3 separate regions of the Homo sapiens genome follow, and regions 1 and 3 are each linked to region 2. Evidence: fine-mapped expression QTL. A gene starts in region 2. Each other region holds a variant in brackets. All regions are shown on one strand. Distances are from middle to middle.

Region 1 (2,803 bases), 190 kb after region 2:
GTTTGGTCAGAAGTCAGCAAAACTATGACTTGTTCAGAAAACAGAATGATTAGGCTCTCTGAGAGACCCCAAAGGCCCAACCACTCTGCAGGACCAGGGCCTGGGACCTGCAAGTGAAGCCTAATCTTTCGGGAGCCCCTGGGGAGGAAGAGGATTATGTGAAGTGGTTCCGAAAGGAGGAAGGACCTGAGACTTTCACAGAATTTCTGTCTTTTCCTTCTTGTCTCCATCCTTCTTTCATAGCCTTGGAGGGGAACATTCCAGCTTCTTATAGTTATGGTGAAGAAGGCCAACACCAGCATGTCACTCATGGTCCAGACCGATTTCCTGATCTGGGTGGCCAAGGGTGAGAATAACATTTCCACTGAGCTGATTGATGAAGGACACGGGTACAAGTTTAATGTAGATGGGGCGGATCTGATGGGAGGTCGTGAGAAGAAAAACTTTCTTGTCTTCCTCTGACTTTCTGTTTTCATTTGAAGAGAGTAGGATTAAGTTCTTAGGTCTTAGAGTCAGATGGCCTGAGTCTGCAACCTGGAAGAGACCACCTAGCAATCTGGTCCTACCCATTTGGGAGCCTACTCACCCCACGGTTCCTCTACTTGCAATGAGTTTCCTAAACAGGGCAGGGCCAGATTTCCACCTTGCGCAACTTCTGCTGTGGCTGGAGAAGGAGGATGCTAGCCTCCTTGGTGTTTACGAAATGAGTTATGATATGTAATGTTAGAATAACGTCCAGCACGTAGTATGTTTCGTATGGCAACATCCTTTCCCTCCTCCTCAGCCTGGGGTTGGTTGGCTATGGAGATATGCCCACACTACCACCACTCCTGGCAGCCCCCTGTGTTCAAAGAGTGTGGGAATAGGGTACTGGCCGATGTCCGACGGTCAGCACCGCAGTGGGCCATAAAGCAGCGGCAAAGGGAGCGGCCAGCTCAGATACGGCGCAGGAGATGAAAGTCGGCCGTGTTTTCCTTTCCAAAGTGCTGCTGTGTTCCTGAAGGCCTGCAGCTTCCTCTGCCCTGCTGGGGATTTTTTTTCTTCCCAGTTCCT[C/A]TCAGTGATATCTTAAGAGGCAAACTTCCAGCACTAACAGGAGGTCTTTTGTTCTCCTTTTCTCAAAGCGGACTTTAACCCAGTTACTACAGACTGAGTCACTGTAAAAACAAACAAATAATAATAATACTCCATTTTCTTAAAGGCTCTTCCATGCCTGCTGACAGAAAAGGGGGAACCTGACACTGCCCTGGGCCTGTGGGGCTCCTCCCCGCCTCCGTCTTCTGGAGGCACAGCCCACGAGAACCTTCCAGAACACACTGGAGCCCGGCACCGTGGAACTGTTCAGCTAGGCTCTGGCTTGTTTGGAATTTCATCTGACTTGAAGGGGCCCGTGGACTCAGAGGAATTTGGGTCTCAACACAGTCCCGGTGGGATTTACCCCAGACCGAGGAATGCTTGTTTTACTCCTGGATCTGCTACACACTAAATTCGGGACTTTCCTCCCTTCTCTACACTTTAGTTTCTTTTTATGTATGTGGAACAGGAGTATTAGACACTCTGCGATTTTATCAGAAAGGATTTTACAATGGTTATACTGTGATTTCTCCTTTTCCCTGAGTACATCTCCTCCTGGCTGAGAGTTCCTGGAGGGGGAATGACAGCTAACACATTTCTGAATCCTTGGTCTTAAGCATGGTATTTGGTTCATGGACACACAAGGTGTCTAGTAGACGTCTGTTAAAAGGACACATGAATGAATGAATGAATGAATGAGGTTTGAGTTGGTGTGCTGTGCTTGGTCTGACAATGATATCAACAGGAAGCTTCACTTCATCATCATCAATAATAAAAAGGTAAGGCTTAAGGAGTTCCTACTGATACCACCTCTTTATGTAGAAGTAGCTTTCTCTTCTTGGGAAGCTACTTGTACTTGAGAATTTAGATTTAAAATCAGACCGAGACTGCCATGGGTCTCTAGGACGGCCGTCTATTTTTCTAAGCTGGTCCCCACTTTAACAAATCCCAGGAGCTGAAGCAGTAGGATCTTCATTTACTCTGTTGGGTTTGTGCCCCCGAGATACAGTCCTTTCCATTTCAGCATCAATCATTTGAAAAGTAAATATCTCACCTTCTTGTGACCTGGCAAGGATAGAGTAGAGTTCTCTCCATCAGGGTCAATTTACATCTGTGTCCTTTTTTTTTTTTTTAACTTGTATTTTAGGTTTGGAGGGTACATGTGAAGGTTTGTTACATAGGTAAACTTGTGTTACAGGGGTTTGCTGAACAGAGTATTTCATCACCCAGGTATTAAGCCCAGTACCCAATAGTTATCTTTTCTGCTCCTCTCCCTCCTCTTCTCCCTCCACCCATGAGTAGACCCTAGTGTTTGATGTTTCCTTCTTTGTGTTCATAAGTTCTTACCATTTAACTCCCACTTACAAGTAAGAACATGTGGTATTTGGTTTTCTGTTCTTGCATTAGTTTCTTAAGGATAATGGCCTCCAGCTCCAACCATGTTCCTACAAGAGACACGATCTTGTTCTTTTTATGGCTGCATAGTATTCCATAGTGTATGAAGTCTTAACAAGGGCAGGAGTAGGGTGGGAGTCTCATTTTATAGGGAAAATGTTCCTTGGCTGGTCCTTCCTTCCCTACTCTCTATCCTGTCATCCTCAATGTCCCCTAACAACCAGGAGTGGATGACAGTAAACAATTTCAGTGTTGGGACTGATCTGGCCACTCCCCACTGGGTATGGTTCCCCCAGACGGTGCACAGCTCCTGGCCTAGCCTCAGTTTATTTCTCTG
Region 2 (2,803 bases):
ATCGCAATGGAACTCAATCTTAGCCACTCCGCAGCACCGGGTTTCATAACAGACTCGGCGGCCTCGAGTGCTGGGAAGAAACGTGCGAGGGCCGAGGGGGGCGGCGGAGCCCGCGTGGAAATCGGAAAGAAGCGCAGCCCTGCGACTTCCGCCTGGGTCATCACGCCAGCAGTCGGGCCAAGGCGCAGGGGGCGGGTGGGGGACTCGTTAACTTTTTATTTGGGTGGGCGGCATCCAAACCTAACAGTATATATTTTATCATTTTCAAGGGAGTCATGCTCCATTGCGGGCCCTTCGGTTTCGTGGCTCCCATGTCCCCCTCTCCACCTCCCGCCAAAACGGCGCAGCGTGACAAGCCATATGTTCCACTCCGGTGGGGGCGAGAGAGAAGCAACAATAAGTTAAAAGTGCCGCCTCCCTCCACCTCTTTACCTTCATTCTTACCAAAGTAACCTTTTTTCATTGTTCTAGAGTCTTGAGGTGTGTGTGGGGAGGATGGAGGAGGAGGGAGGGTTGTGGCGCCGCCCAGAATTCGGAGCGCGCGTGGAAAGTAGTGAGTTGCTCGGTGGGCTTTTTCTGGGAGGAAGGGGCATTCAGGAAGGATTAGGGTTTTCTTGACTAAAAAGTTTAAAGATTGGATGCGTGAAAAGAAACGGCACGCCTAGGCCTGGTAAAACAAACAATCGTCCCGGGTTGTGGTCTTTTTTTGCGGCGCCCCCCACCCGCCCACACCCGGAGAGCGCCGGCTGCAAAGCGAGCGCGAGTGTCGACGCGTGCGGCGCACTAAATTGTGCCGCGCTCGCCCCCGCCAGACCATGTCCTCCTGGGGAAAAAGTTTCCCTAGTCCCCCCAGCAGCGCGCCCCACCCTACGCCCCGCTGGAAAAAAAACAGCAACATAAAATCCTAGGCTTGAACATTCTGTGCGTCCCAAATTTCTAATGTCCTCGGCCTGCCCGGTTTGCCGAAGGGAGCCGAGTGTCGAAGAGAAGTCGGGAAAAGGTAAGTTGTGCAGACACTTGGGGAAGTTTCAAGGAGACCGCCAGCTCAAGATGGAAACCGCGGCCCGGGCGCTAAGGACGGGCTTCAGCTCCCGCTGGCAAAAAGAGAAAGTCGAGCCCGCCTTCCTGCCCAACAAAAAACAACAACATGACAACAAGAACCCCGGAGGGAGTGGAATGAGTGACGTCACAGCCGCGCTCTGAGGCTGACAAAGGAGGGGGCGCGCCCCTCCCGCTCTGCGCCCGCGCGGCCCCGGAGAGGGGGCGCCTGAAGCGCCGGGTAGGGAAGTCAGCCGACTTGAAACTTTTCCTCTTAAAGAAAAAAAAAAAAAAGTTGTGCGCGGCTCACAGTGGGGTTTTTTTTTTCCGCCTTCTTTTCTCGTCTCCCCTCCCCCTTCTTCCTTTTGAAAGTTTCTTCTCCTCCCCCTGCCCCCCCTCCCCGCCTGACCGCATGGCTGATTCAACTCCAGTGTCAATCAACTTCTTTTTCCTCCTCTTCCTCATTTAAATAAGTTTAAAGCTCCTCCTCCCCCCGGCCCACCAAATCTGAACTTTATAAATTGGGCTTTGCGCGCCCCAGCCCGGAGTCAGAAAGGCGAGGGGCGCCGGGAACTGGCGTGTGGGACTCCAGACAGGAGAGGCTGCGCCTTCCCCGCACCGGGACCTTCGCGACACACCAGATCCTCGCCCCTGGCTCGCGCGAACGCACAGGATGACCACCACCCTCGTGTCTGCCACCATCTTCGACTTGAGCGAAGTTTTATGCAAGGTAAAGGGGGGCGGAGCATTTGCTTTTCAAAAAGTCTTTTTCTTTTGCCTTAAGAAAGAACCCCCAAAAGTTTGGGTCTTGGAAGGCAATGGGGAAAGTGGTGCAGCGAGATGATTCTTTTCTCCTCCGGCATTTCTCCCAAGTTTGAAGGAATTTGGCCCCGTCCTTCCCACCCTTTGAGTTTCAACAGTTGCTGGCGGGGATTACATGTGAATCTGGAGGCCAGGGTTTTGAGGGGCGAAGTTTGCCTGGCAGGGCAGCCCGGGGGCTTCGGGGGGAGGGCTGGGATTGGGACAAGTTTTGGGCGATCCTGTTTTACGTAACGTGCTGCTGGATCCCAGGTTTGCTGGTCTGATCGGGTTCCCAGTCTGCGCCCTAGGTCTGTCCAGCGGCATTACCCACCCGTGGGGTTGGGAGTGGGAGGTCCCTCGGGGAAGTGAGTCTCGGGACAATGTTTTCCTCCACTCTTTGGGGGGAGCTGGGGATATGCGAGGAAGAAAGGCCAAGTTGTGATTCAAAAAGATGTTGCAGAACAAGTTTGCAGTGGGGCTTGAGTCCGCCCTAGCTCCGTTGGGCTTCTTCCCGCGATAGCCGATCGTGCAGCAAACTTTGGGGTGAAAGAGGCATTCAGGTTGACCCGCTTACCTGTGTTGCCGAGGCATTGCGGCTCATCGATTGCGGGCGGGGTTGGGGGGGGAGGTGGCGACAAAATGCTGGCTTGAACTCGAGAGTCCCGCGAGTAAGGATTTAATGGGGGGCTCCTTAAAACATGTTGCTTGTCAGCCAGTGTTGAAAAAGCAAGTTTTAAACTCGGAATGTTCCAGGACTGCGGTTTAAATGTACATAGCAAAAGTCTATGGATGTTGTTAAATTTCTTTCCAACCTCCCCCTCCCAATTTGAAAGGGTGAAGCTGCTGGGCTACTTTTTAATTGCTGAAGTGTTTTGCCTTCTCTTAACACGTCGGGTCATGTTGCTCTGTTTTCCCAGCTTGCTGCTCCTGTTGGTGCAGCTGCCAACGCCCCAGGGCTGCAGGG
Region 3 (2,650 bases), 110 kb after region 2:
CCGCCCTCTCCCCACTTTTTCTTTTCAGTGCTCAAGATTCACGACATGCGAATCTTCTTCCACCCCCACGTCCCTGCTTTCTTCCTAACATATGTCCAGCTGATCGTGGGGGGCGGGGAGGGCGGGGGAAGGGGAGCAGGATGGGAACCATATTTATGGTGCTTAACTCAGCAATTGCTAAAGGAAGAAATAATGACTTCCAGGGGGCTCTGGGCCTTTTTTCCAAGGCCTTTGTGTTTTCGTAATCTATGACAATTTTGTGGTGTAAGCAAAAGTTATTACAAAACATGGAACCAGCCTAATGAGGAAGGTTATGTTCTAAACCAGGAGGGACTATCTCTTTATAGAGGAAATTCAAATTTGGCTGGCTTTGGAATTCGGAATCCCTGGGCTTTCCAGAGAACTTTTGGGAGAGACTCTCTCGAGCTTGGTGTGTCTGACAACTGGAACTGGCCTTTCAGTTTTTCTAGAGATCAGATGGTTTGTTATTTCAAAAGGTGTCTGGCCTATGGATGGGAAAAGTTGACTAGCTAGTTAGGTTTACCGGAGACAGATTGGTGTAGATAGGGCACCAGACTTGTGGCCAGGCGATGGGTTTGAGTCTCAGTTGTAATCTGGAGCAAGTAATTTAATATCTGTAGGTCTCAGTTGCTTTGGTGTTAAAATTGGGATTGTGTCCCCTTCCCTCTAGGCTGCTGACAAAAAAAAAGTGAGATGACATAAGTTTAAGGCACGGTGGGAATTCTTTTTTTTAATGTTAATATTTTTGGGGGTACGAGTGGTTTTTGGTTACATGGATAAGTTCTTCAGTGGTGATTTCTGCGATTTTGATGCTCCCATCACCCAAGCAGTGTACACGGTGCCCAAGGTGTAATCTTTTATCCCTCACCCCACTCCCAACCTGCTCCACTCCCCAGTCCCCAAAGTCCACTATATCTTTCATATGCATGGCATGTATGCATTCTTGACAATTAAAGAAGTATGCAGTGATCCCTTCTAATGCTTCTTCATGCAAAGGGCTGGCTCACACTTTCAACAGAGGAGAGAGGCTGAGAACTACAAAGCCTACTGATGAACAGGAGGGAGGTTATTTATACAGTGGCCCAGGACACGATATTACACAGGTGTTTGGGAGGCTGGTTTTGCTTCCAAGTTTGCCCACTCCCTGGTCATCTTCCAGGCAGGTCTTAGAATCATAACTTTGATCACATTCCTTCCCTACCCAGGAAACTCTCTTGTCAAACCCAGACAAAAGGCACCTGCCTGCTCCATCTTGCCTGCCTTTTCTTCTGTAACTAAATCATCTTATGCCCTCACTCTCCGTCTTAGCAAAGTGAACACTGGACGCACAGTTTAGCCACTTGCCCGATGTTTTCATGGTACGTTGCTTGGAGGCCCTTG[T/C]TCCTCCTTCACCTTCCTATTCCTCTTCCTCCTCCTCTCTCTTACATCTTGTTCATTTGTCATTTCTTATAAGATCCTACTTCAACTTCACCCCTCTCTGACTCTCCGCTGATTTGGAACACCTCGAGTAGACACTCCAAACCCTCTGATAAACCCTAGCAACTATCTTTTTTCAGTCTCCACAATTCAAAAATCGAATAATGCCCTAGGTAAAGGCAGCTGACTTGACTTCTCCAGAAGGTAAACTGAGGCCCACCCAGGGAACAAACTGGACAGAGATTACTGTACAGGATTACTGGACAGAGTAAATCCATGACAGACAAAAATAAAAACCCTGCATCCTGATTCCAGTTTGCCTGGAGTTTAAAAAGAGGTTCTTTAGCTTGAATATCCCAGAATAGCCTCTCCTGGGCTGACCAGCTGTGAAGTGATGTGTTGCAAGGGTTATTTTTTTGCCTTGGCTTAACTCTTAAAAAAACACCCCAAACTCCCAAAATCGGCCTAAAAAAAGCCATTTCTCACAATGTCATCTGCTTGCCAAGTTTAAACTTAGTATATTACATTATGAACGCCTCTGGGCCTCACTCTCAGCTTACTGCGACGCTCAGGTATCTGAATTGAGTTCAGAAATCACAGTTTATTGAAGGAAACAGATCATTAAGTCACTCCACTGGACTGAAGCTGTTGACGTTGTTTATTTGGAGAAACTGGGCATTGACTAATGTTCTCTTGATTTGCGTGGATCAGGACTAACTGGAGCTATTTAACAAAGGGTGTGGCCATCAGATAGCATGGGACCCATCTGGGCTAACGGGAAGAGGAACGGGACGGTGGTGTGCTGAAGCTTGCATTGGCTTGTGAAAGCTGATTGGTAAATTTTCAGGAATTTTGCAAGCTGGCTGTGGAACACAGCCATTGTTAAAAATTAAATGATATAAACATATAATTAATTATATTTTAAAAAGGTAATAAATACTAACAACAGATCAGATCCTAATTTTTTTAAACTACAGTTTACTATCATCTATGTGCTTGAGTTATGTTTATTACACATATGGTGGGAAGACTGTAGCGTAGTATACTACTGACTCTCTTCCCAATTCCACAGTCAGTAACATCACATTGGTAGCTTGAAATTGGCCGTGGTGAGAATATTTACACCACAGAAATTGGCACACTCTATACTCAGGGCTTGATTTATTGTTGTGTTGATTATCTAGACTTATGGAAGTGCTAGAGAAAATGTTAA

Evidence for each region.
Region 1: its variant is fine-mapped to the expression of ZFP36L1 in whole blood (TOPMed, PIP above 0.99).
Region 3: its variant is fine-mapped to the expression of ZFP36L1 in whole blood (TOPMed, PIP above 0.99). The same link has a PIP of 0.9 or more in blood mononuclear cells and monocytes.

What each region holds. Positions count from the first base shown.
Region 1 is chr14:68,597,205-68,600,007 of GRCh38, reverse strand. It overlaps a transcript of RAD51B not described here. Among named protein-coding and RNA genes, the nearest start is that of RAD51B-AS1, 87 kb to the left of the region's middle. The variant C/A (reference allele first, on the strand shown) is at 1,054.
Region 2 is chr14:68,791,847-68,794,649 of GRCh38, reverse strand. It overlaps ZFP36L1 (ZFP36 ring finger protein like 1), which reads left to right and starts at 1,583. Exons shown (of 2, transcript NM_004926.4): 1 at 1,583-1,768. The coding sequence starts at 1,712. RefSeq lists silencers at 1,136-1,335, 1,356-1,425.
Region 3 is chr14:68,680,162-68,682,811 of GRCh38, reverse strand. The region is part of intron 2 of RAD51B-AS1 (RAD51B antisense RNA 1); the gene reads left to right. It also overlaps a transcript of RAD51B not described here. Among named protein-coding and RNA genes, the nearest start is that of RAD51B-AS1, 4.0 kb to the left of the region's middle. The variant T/C (reference allele first, on the strand shown) is at 1,402.